Homo sapiens: one gene and its partners. The protein of the gene in region 1 purifies or fractionates together with the protein of each later gene. This does not show direct contact. Each region holds a gene or a part of one and is shown on either strand. Other genes may lie near its edges.

Region 1 (3,653 bases):
TTTTTTTTGAGACAGAGTTTTGCTCTTGTCGCTCAGGCTGGAGAGCAATGGAGCAATCTTGGCTCACTGCAACCTTCACCTCCCATGTTCAAACAATCCTGCCTCGGCCTCCCCAGTAGCTGGGACTACAGTTGTGCACAATTACGCCCAGCTAATTTTTCACCATGCTGGCCAGGCTGGTCTTGAACTTCTGACCTCTAGTGATCCACCCGCTTCAGCCTCCCAAAGTGCTGGGATTACAGGCGTGCGCCATTGCACCCAGCCTTAACCTCCATTTTGGAAGATGGATAAATTTGTTGTTTCACATGAATTCTTAATTTCCGTTTTCCCCACCTAGATAATCAAATTTGTTTTGTTTTTAAATCACTGGTTTCAGTATTATATTGGTGGTATATTTACAAAAATAATAAGCAGAATAAAACCACCCGATTTGAGAATAATATTATTATCCTCTGGCACAAAATGGGTCTTCAGTATTCACCTCTACACCAATCATCTGATCTTCATTTTTTGGCTTATAGAAAGCTACCTGATACAGGCACTCATGAGAGTTTCAAGGGCTGAATTCATAGGAATGAAAAAAGAAGAGGTGTGTCTATTAGCAGAAGGAAATTTTACTGTCGTTTCCAAGGTGCATTGAGACAAATATGCTGACTTAAATAAGAAGCCAAGATTCTTCCAGGTTTTCCTTGTTTTTGTTTTCTTAAAGGGATGTAAAGAGAGCTATGCTTCTTTCAGTTTTTCATTTCACATCACTTATTTTCTTTAGTAGCTGTTGAAGGAATATAGCTCAAAGAAAATGATGGCCCCTGAGACTCACTAATAACAAATCTGCCAAGGCTGAGTTGAATGCAGAGATAAAAGAGAGAACCAGAGACTTACTTGTTCATTGGATCGAGAGAGACAGCTCTTTATGACTTCTGTTTCCAGAAGTGTACGCTTATTAATATCCACATGTTCATAGTACTTAGAAAGTCGAGTCTGCCCTTGTTTATTCACCATGAGGAAAAATTTTATCATTTTTCTTTCCTGGCCAGTATTTTTCCAAATACAGTTCAAAAGTTATGACAAGGGATGGCTGTAACTGGAACCTTGAAGACAAAAACAAACAAAACCAGAAAGGCAAGATCAAATTTCTCAAATAATTATATTAAATGTTTTTATAGATAAACAGTAAATAAAGTAGTAGTAAATATCATCTGATAATATCAGTCTTTATTCCTATGAACTAATTGAGGTTTTAATAAATAAAAACCAGGCCGGGTGTGGTGGCTCATGCCTGTAATTCCAGCACTTTGGGAGGCCGAGGCAGGTGGATCACAAGGTCAGGAGATCGAGACCATCCTGGATAACATGGTGAAACCCTGTCTCTACTAAAAATACAAAAAATTAGCTGGGCGTGGTGGCGGGGGCCTGTAGTTCCAACTACTTGAAAGGCTGAGGCAGGGGAATGGTGTGAACCCCGGAGGCGGAGCTTGCAGTGAGCCGAGATTGCGCCACTGCACTCCAGCCTGGGCAACAGAGCAAAACCCTGTCTCAAAAAAATACATAAATAAATAAAATAAAATAAAAAAATAAAAACCAATGATAAATTTTCATCAGTTATTCTCCAAAATAATTCTGAGCAACTGCAGTACTTCTGTTTCTATTCATTCAATTTACTCATTCATTTTGCTGGGTAACAACGATGTGTCAAGCACCAGAAGAATGTGAAGATGAAATAGTAAGGACTTCTGATCTTCTGATTTTTACATCTAGCAAAGGTGCTAGGTAGGTAAACAACGGCAGTACAAGGTGATGAGTTATAACTGGGACAGGTCCGCTTCCATAGGTGTACAGAAGGGAGGGACAAGGAACATCACAGGAGAGTGAAGAACTGCTTCCCGGAGAAGGGGCACTGATGTGAGGTCGTGAAGAATGAGCTACAGGGGAAGACTGAGGCAGAGAAAACAGGTATGAAAGCTCTGGAAAGTTCACTGGGGCTGCAGTTCAGGGCATGGGAAGAATAGTTGCAGGAAATTAAGCTACTCACATATGATATAATTGGCTTTAGAAGTCATGCTAAGGAATTTGGGCTTTATTTTATGGGCAATGGAGACAAGATCTATAGTAAAGCTTTTCTTTCCTTAGTGGTGGAAATAATAGTAGTGATATCAATTTATCAAATTCCTCCAGGCCCTATAACAGGCTCTGTAAGGTGCTGTGCTGAGCAATTCTCACAATTGTTTGAGGTAGGTACTTCTGTTATCCTTACTTTATTTTTGAGATAGGGCCTCGCTCTGTCACCCAGGCTGGAGTGCAGTGGTGCAATCTCAGCTTACTGCAGCTTCTGCCTCTGGACTCAAGTGATCTCCCCACCTCAGCCTCCTGAATAGCTAGGATTATAGGCATGCACCATCACGTCCAGCTAATTTTTTAACTTTTTGTAGAGATGAGGTTTCACTATATTGCCAGCCGTTCTTGAACACTTAGGCTCAAGTGATCCTCCTGCTTTGGCCTCCCAAAGTGTTGGGATTACGGGCGTGAGCCACCTTATCAAGTCTGTTATCCTTACTTTAAGGTCAAGCAGGTTAAAGTTTAGAAATAAAGACACTTGGTCAGGCGCGGTGGCTCATGCCTGTAATCCCAGCATTTTGGGAGGCCAACACAGACGGATCATTTGAGGTCAGGAGTTCAAGACCAGCCTGGCCAATATGGTGAATCCTTGGCTCTAGTAAAAATACAAAAATTAACTAGGCATGGTGGTGCACACCTGTAATCCCAGCTACTCAGAAGGCTGAGGCAGGAGAATTGCTTGAATCCGGGAGGCGGAGGTTGCAGTGAGCTGAAATGGTGCCACTGTACTCCAGCTAAGGGAGGAGAATCTCTTGAGCCCGGGAGGTGGAGGTGATAGTGAGCTGAGATTGTGCCACTGCACTCCAGCCTGGGTGACAGAGCAAGACTCTTAAAAAAAAAGAAAAAGAAAAGAAGATACCCAAAGTCACTGCATGACTTTGTGTCAGAGGTGGGCTGCGGTTCAAAGGCCAAGCACATGCATGGATCCATGACACCCCTAACTCATCCTCCTCATTCAGGGGTTCATGCTTGTGCTGTTATGTCTAACTCAGTTGTATTGAATCTCATATTTGTTTCTCTTACACTCAACATAGGTTTTGGAAAAATCAATGCAAGTGAGCATAATATTCATCAATGGCCAGTCCTTCTTTCATCATGACCACCAGAGCTGGCTGGTCTGGCTCAGCTGACAATATTGTATTCACGTTTTGTGATATCTGTGAGAACCAGTGCAAAAAACTAAGATGAGTAATAGTTCTTAAATGAACTTTAACATTTGAAATTTTAGATTTATAGTAAAGTTGCAAAGATGGCCATTGTTAGCATCTCACATTACCATGGTACATTTGCCAAAACTAAGAAACCAATATTAGTACATTATTATTAACTCCAGACTTTATTTAGAGTTCATCGATTCTTCCACTAATGTCCTCTTTTTGTTCCTGAATCCCATCCAGGATACTATAGTGCATTTAATTGTCATGTTGCTTTAGTCTGTTCTGGTCTGGGACAGTTTCTCAGTCTTCCTCGTTTTTCATGACTTTAACAGTCCTGAGGATACTGGCCCAGGCTGGAGTACAGTGGTACAATCATGGCTC
Region 2 (3,653 bases), on another chromosome or scaffold:
AAAAGGTTATCTTGAGAATCAATAGTGTTAGCTGATGTGCAGTGCTTAGAAGGGTGTAGCTTGCATTTTGGATGATTGAGGAAACATATACAACAGAGTGGTTCATAGACCTCAGCAATTTAGACCACAAGTGTGGGCAATGTGTGGTAGGTGTACTAATTTTCAAGTGCAGCGTTAGAACTTAAAACATGAACTAGACATTGTCTATTAAATGGACATCTTCACTGAAGTACAACTTAGAGTTAAATGAAGAGACTATCATTTTTGCTTGATCCTGTACCATTTAGAATATGGAACAAAAATACTCTTAAGTTCAGTAATTTTTATTTGTGTGTAAATTCCTTCCCTGAATAAAAGATAAAAGCTTCCAAATACCTTTTGAAGCTCTAATTCAGTGAAGCATTCTTTTGAATATGTATGATTTGCACATAATCTATAATCGATTTCACACGTTGTGCCCACCTTAGTCATCCCTCTAATATGTAACATGCCAACTCTAATGAGAGTACTGGTGTCCAGGTAAATAATTGGTTGCTGTGTAAGAGAATTACTTGTTATCTGGGAGCCTTTAGTTTAAGTTCCAAGTAGATTGGAAGCCTTGCCTTGATTTCTTTTTATTCTTTCTTTTCTTAGGAAGGACAGTTTCCAAAAGGGCTGGGGTACAATACCACATTACTGTGGCTGAAGGAATAAGTGAATTGGAGTTGGGGAAATGAATACTGACTAAATATGGTGTGAATCAAAAAGCAAAGGATTGGAGAGAAACCAGAAGAGGGCAGGGAAAGAAAAGGGGACACATATCACCTGGTGACTTTTCAAAGTACTGAGGAAGAGTTTTGTTCACATCTTTATGTCCTAAAAGAAAAGCAGCAGGAAATGGTGACTGGAGAGCTGGTTGGGGCATCAGATGTGGTTTCAGTGCAACTCAGGCATTTACCAGCAGGGTGACCTTGAGCAGGCAAATAACCTCTCTGAACTTCAGCCTCTTCGTGTTTTAATTTGGGTTAGCAATGTCTAACTTGCAAACTTGTATGGATTAGAAATAGTGCATCTGAAGTGACGAGTATGAGTCCTGGAGAATATTACTACTACCATTTATTAGGTGACCAGAACTACTGTTGTTGAATTAACATTGGGCTTCTTTTTATTTTGCCCAGCCTTTACTACATCTAGTAGGTAAGAGTGTTATTAGTGCTGGCCTAAAAGTGGCTCCTTTCACTATGTGCCCTACTTGGCTGAAACTTTTTGATTAAGATATTCTCACTCTGTCTTTTCTACCCTTTTGAGCCGTTCTTGGGGTGGAAAAAACCTGAAAATGCTTTACATGATAGCAACTAAGAGTTGTTGTTTTTCATTTTGACAGCCAATGGTTCTTCTTTTATCATTAAGGACAAAGTGGTTTTGCTACTTTTGCCAGTAGATGGTTTATGGGTTTTATAGCTTTATTTTGAAGTGAAAGTTATATATCATATAGCTTTATTATAAAAGAAAAATGATAAACTATATTTTCTTTTTAGCCAGTGTTCTTTGGAGTGAATTTTAGTAGAATTTTGAAAACTTATTTGAGAAAATTAAATTATTTTTAATCCATAACATTTATTGAGTACCTACCATGTTCGGGTTCAATGCTAAGCTTATTACATGCATTATGTCATTTAACTGTGACACTAGCACTTTAATCTGAATGAGCAATCTGAGGCTTAGAGAGGTTAATTAACTTGCCAGTGTCAAGATCTAGCCTGATGAAACTAAGCTTAGAAACCTAATGTAACTTTTTCCATAGTGCATCATTGCCCTCAAAATTATTTTAGTGTCTCTCATGACAGTATTAATGGTTTTAAGAAAGTAGGTTAGGTGGGTCATATGGGGATTCATGATAAAATTTAGAATCAGAAATAACGGGTGTACTATTTGATGCAGCATTTCCAGGGTACAAGAAATTTGCTGCTGGTATGAAAGATGATTTTGGTTGATACTAGAGTTGATTTTATGTGGCATGTAGATGTTGCCTGAAATGACAGTGAATCATATAATGAAAAACTTATTTCCTTTCAATGCTTTCCTGACAAGTAATGGAGAAATTCTCAGTCTGATGCTAGAATCTCTCTCCTAGAGAGTTGCTTCTCTGTTTTTCCAAAGAGAATAGACGTTAGGCAGCCAACAACTTGATAGCTAGAATTTGATAATTGTTTTGTTGTATTATTGTATTTAATTTTAAAATTAAATCTATTACCAATCATTAATGCTATGTAAATCAGATTTTTCATTTATAAAGTAGTGGTGTAAAAGTTTCCTGTTTAAAGTTTATTTTAAGGAAAAATAAACTTATTTAAGTGATTATTTGGTGGATTCAAAAAAACTGTACAGGTTTTGCATGAGTGTAGTAAGAACTCGCCTGAGGGGTGCCTGCATGTCTGAAGTTTAGGAATGCATTGACTGATCAAGTTGGATACAGACACTGAATTTTACAGTTAGTTAACTGAATTCTAAGGTGGATAAGTCACTTACCAGGTAGCTTAAGCTAAGCTGAGAGCCCACATACTCTGACTCTCAGTACAAGATAATACCCCTTCACTGCTCTGTGCTGTCTCTGTAGACTAGGACCCTCTTCTCTGTGAGAAGAAATGGGCATTGCTATTTTTAAACAGTGCTGTGTATTTCTGAATGGTATATTTGTGTTCTTTGTTTTTATTGGCCCATGAGTGCATATGCAGAAGACATGTCAGTCATTGTCCTTCACTGATAAGCTTTACTAAATAGGCTCATAGCCCGGAGGGACATGGGCATGAAATAAATTGCTCTCTATAGCCGTATGACATTTTAAAAAATACTGCTTTAACTATTTTTCATACATAAAATGTCACAATATGATAGTGAATAGAAAATTAAGATGTGCTGTCATTCTGAAGGATAGGCATTATAGAACATTGAAATGATATTATTTGCTTTTCTTTGGGAGTGCATGAAGTTAAAAAAATTATAATCATTTTAGGAGAGTCAGACATTTCATTTTCCAGTTCACATCTCATTTAAAATGCCTCCTTTAATTGGAATCTTTGTTACAAACAGAAAAAATAATCTGCAAATCAAGATATTTAGGACAGCTTTGACATTGCTTATGTGTTCTCTTGATAATAGCTATGATGCTGTCAAATAAATATTATAAACAGATTAAAATTTGGCAGTTGATAATTGATTAATTTGGTTTAGAGAAGTTTATCAAGTTTTATATTAGTGAGATTTATTAATAAATAATATTAATATTAGAAATCTATGATGCTTGCCCTTCTGCATTAGTAGCTCAATCTTTTAACAGACAGAAAATGTTTTAAATTATTTTATATTTTATTTAGAGGTTTGGATGCTATAAAACAAGTTAAATTGTATTGATGTCAAACATCACTTTTATTAAAATATGAAAAATAATTTTTTTTACTGTATAGGCGGTCATCACCTCAAAATCTAGATGCCATCCAAATTTGATCCAGGTGTGGGTGAGGCCCCTTAGGTATCCATACAATCTTTAACTATAATTCTTCAAGTATGCTTCCTCTTTATCTGTAGATCTGTGAAACCAGAGTCAAATTACCTGCCCTCAACACAGCCAACATATGGTGGTAGGACAGGCATAAAATACCTAGATATTCCTGTTT
Region 3 (3,653 bases), on another chromosome or scaffold:
ATTCCCAGCATGTTCCCACTCCATTCTTGCTGCAAATACAGTCTGAAGTTTGCTGGCCCAGGGAACTGACAAAGCCTCGTTCCCTCCCCAGCATTGCCTTCCCCTGGGGCAGTGTTGGAGGTACCACGGCTTGATTTTCATGTTGGATGCTCTTTTTCCTCACATCCTTACAGCCCTTGGACATGCCCTGGTTATCACCACACAGACCCCAGTTCTCTCCCCATATTTCATTTTTTCCTATGCATTTCAATATTAGAAAAGCCTGACTCACATTTTCTTTAGGGAGGGGCAGGGAGAAGATTTCAACATTCACCCTCACTGCCGGTCTCTCTCTTCAGCTACACCCACGCCCCCAGTCCCCTTCTCTCTCCTCCACACCTTCTTTTTTGGCTTTGTTTTGGTTTTCATTGAGTTCTGTCCAAACATCGAATATTTTTAAGCTGTGAGGAATGGGGGTGTCGGGAGGAAGTGGCCAGTCTCTTGTCAACACCCTGTTTCTTTTCCTGGCTGGCAGGTTTTGATTGGAACTTGGTATTCAAGTGGGATTACATGACGCCTGAGCAGAGAAGGTCCCGGCAGGGGAACCCAGTCGCCCCTATAAAGTAAGTGCCAGCATCCTTCAGGGTGCCCCTCCCAGATGAGACCCCAGGTTCCAGCTTCTTTGCTGGGCCCGCACCGCCTGGAGACCCAGTGGGGGCTGTTCACCTTCTGCCCTCCGGTTTCCCCTCGTCTCAGCTCAAAGATGAGCACCTTCCACCAGGTCATAGAATAAAATCCTTGGAGATTTCTTTTCCACAGTTGAAGTCTCACATAGGTTTATAAGGCCTATCTGCTAGGTCTGTGCATTCCTGTATGTTGATAATGTAGAGCGTTTCTGTAGCAGAGCAGGATCTCCGAGCTGACCCCAGGCCCAGGAAAAGGGGCTTGGTGGGCAGCAGGAGGCTTACTGCTGCTACTGCCCAGCAGGCCTTTGCTCTCCTGCAGAGGAAGGAGCCCATGCTCATGAAGCCCATGCTTTTAAGATTCCCAGGCCGGGCGGTGGGCTTTCTGGTTGAGAGTCAGGATGCCTTCTCTAGCTGGGGAGAGAAGGGGGCCACCTCTTCCAAGTTGGCACACGGTTAAGTGAGATAGCATTCACAGAGTACTTAGCGCTGAAATATATTTGCTGACATTTAGCCAACATCTGCAGTGTGCCATAGACCTTCCCAGCACTTTACACTGAATTCGCACAGCATCGCTTCTGGGAACAAAGTAGGGAGCTCAGTGTACATCTGTTGTCAACCCCTTCCTGGGATGATGAAGTGAGGAGCATGGTGGGTTCCCTTGTAGGAGGTGGAGTCTCATCTATGATAGTGATAATGAGAGCTGGTGCTGTGGAGCATTTCCTAAGCGTGCTCAGGGCTTTATGCCCATGATTTTTTGCAATCCTCGTAGCTACCCTATAAGGAAACTGACACACAGAAAGGCCGAGTTCTTTGCCTATGGCAGCATGTCAGTGAGTAGTGATCCAGCCCCAGCAGTCGCTCCCACATAGGGGAGGCTCAGTCCAGCCCCTGGCACTGTGGGAACATCCAGGCAGGGACAGTGGGGGAGGCATTTGAAGGCAGCAGTGGTGAAGCAGAGAGAGTGGCATGCTGGGCACTGAGCAGAAAACAGTGGCAGTGTGGCTGTTCTGAAGATCAGCTTATTGTTAGGGAATCAAGGCTTGGCCTTGGCGCAAGGGTGCTGGCAATCTAACCTTGACTTTGCCCTCTCCTCCCTCCCCCCTCTTCTTTCTGCCTCTTTAGAACCCCCATGATTGCTGGTGGGCTGTTTGTGATGGATAAGTTCTATTTTGAAGAACTGGGGAAGTACGACATGATGATGGATGTGTGGGGAGGAGAGAACCTAGGTATGTACAAGCCTCAAATCTCAGGACAGAGAAGTGCCTCAGCTCTGCAAAAGGCAGGGTGCCAATTGGAAAAAAAATTTAAAAGGCTTCAGAGTGACCATTCACTGGGCTTAATCGATCCTTGCAAACACATATGTAACACCCCTTTTGCTCTTGAAAGTCTCATGAGTTGGGCATTAAAATGTGCCTCCCTAGGTTAGAGTGGAGGATGCCAGAATACGGATAAAGTCTTTGAAGGGAAATGCAAACTCTTTCAAGGCGTCTGAACCCAAGTGTTTGGAATGTTGCAGGCTTGCAAAAACAGAGGGAAACAGTCCAGGAGCTCAGATTCATGCTGAGTGGTGGAGAGTGGAAAATGAACCCCGGCGAGGCTGGTGGGATTGATTGAATTGAAATCATGAAAATCCGATGGGGCAGGGAGGCCTTGGCACTTAATCCCTTCTCGACTACCTTTGCGAATGGTTCTCATTTGTTTTTCTGTTTGTTTGTTTTTTTGTTTTTAAATACCCCATGCAAATTATTTTTACCCAGGTTTAGGCACAGCAAAATTTTGCACATTGTGGTCTATATTGGTAGCCTTATATTTACTGCATAAAAGATGAAAAGATGTGTTTTGTTTGTTTAGGGTTTGGAGTGGGGGAGATCTTTTTTGCTTGTTTCAATTAAAGCCTTTTGTTTCAAATGCTTGACATTCTGAGCGAATTCTCCTGGGCTGCTGAGTGTTGTTAACTTACATTCGTCCTTGGGTGAGTGTACCCTGGAGGACAGGGGAGAAGGAAAGGGGAAAATGAGGCCACTCATTTTTAATAGTTTTGAGACTTTGAAAGTTTTTGTTACTTTAAAAGAAAAGACTAGCCTAGCCTATTATTTTTCCATTGTTTTATGATGTTGAAGTCAGTGATACCATCTCATCTTTGAGGATTTCTCTGCCTTGGTTTGATGTTGAAAGCTTCTTTAGGCTCGATTACTATACTGCACGGGTGGAGAGACCGTGAGTCAAACTCCTTTTGGGTTGTTTTAAAAAAATGATACATTAACCTCTAGGGAAAGCTTGGATTGAAGTCACTTGAGTACAAAAGGCTTCAGAATTGTTAACCCTCTAAAGAGAGTTCTGTCACCCTGTTCCATGGGTATCCCCTAATGGTTTAGTGGAAATCCAGCAGGCCAGGGTCGCCCAGTAGGGCAGCGTATCGTGTAGGTGGCCATTTCTCAAAAACAGTGTGGTTTTCAGAAGTTTGCATACTATTAGCTGAAATGAGACATCAGCCAGCATTTTGTGTCATCGTGTAGGAAGAGTGTTGATTTACATATCTAAGGAGGCATTCACCCAGAGACTGGGGGGTAGATTTGTTGTAAGGAGCTGCTTTATTGTGGTTTGGTGTTTGTATTTATTATGTAGCTGTGCTAGAAGGTTCTAGGGTCTGAGCGGTTCAGGTTGGGGTGAAGATGAACCCTGCAAGCAGGAGCACATCTCTGCCCAGGAAGGCTGGGGCATCTGTCCCTCCGTGAGGGGCTCTCCTGGGTTATGCCAAGGACTTGGACTCCCAGTGAGGTTTGGAGGGCTCAAGAGCTTCACGTGAGAAGGCCATGCCGTGAGCCTTTCTCCTTAGCACTGCTCTAGCTTCTGCTTCTGGGGGCCGTGCACACTACTAGCCATTGCCAACCTGAGGGGCCTCTGTGGGTGTGCATTGGGAGAGGTGTATGGTGCAGAGAGGCCCGAGTAAGATCCAAAACCACCTCCTCAACGTGTGCCCCGCTGGAA

The links.
Region 2: the proteins of AP4S1 (region 1) and GOLIM4 purify together in Homo sapiens (affinity purification with mass spectrometry; one large-scale study listed by BioGRID and IntAct). This does not show direct contact.
Region 3: the proteins of AP4S1 (region 1) and GALNT2 purify together in Homo sapiens (affinity purification with mass spectrometry; one large-scale study listed by BioGRID and IntAct). This does not show direct contact.

Annotation. Positions count from the first base shown.
Region 1 is NC_000014.9:31,063,564-31,067,216, reverse strand, and holds part of AP4S1 (AP-4 complex subunit sigma-1), read right to left. Parts: intron 1,092-3,653; 5' UTR 1,021-1,091; coding exon 883-1,020; intron 1-882. UniProt on the Homo sapiens protein: Component of the adaptor protein complex 4 (AP-4). Adaptor protein complexes are vesicle coat components involved both in vesicle formation and cargo selection. They control the vesicular transport of proteins in different trafficking pathways.
Region 2 is NC_000003.12:168,085,834-168,089,486, reverse strand, and holds part of GOLIM4 (Golgi integral membrane protein 4), read left to right. Parts: intron 1-3,653. UniProt on the Homo sapiens protein: Plays a role in endosome to Golgi protein trafficking; mediates protein transport along the late endosome-bypass pathway from the early endosome to the Golgi.
Region 3 is NC_000001.11:230,248,670-230,252,322, forward strand, and holds part of GALNT2 (polypeptide N-acetylgalactosaminyltransferase 2 precursor), read left to right. Parts: intron 1-514; coding exon 515-602; intron 603-1,787; coding exon 1,788-1,891; intron 1,892-3,653. UniProt on the Homo sapiens protein: Catalyzes the initial reaction in O-linked oligosaccharide biosynthesis, the transfer of an N-acetyl-D-galactosamine residue to a serine or threonine residue on the protein receptor.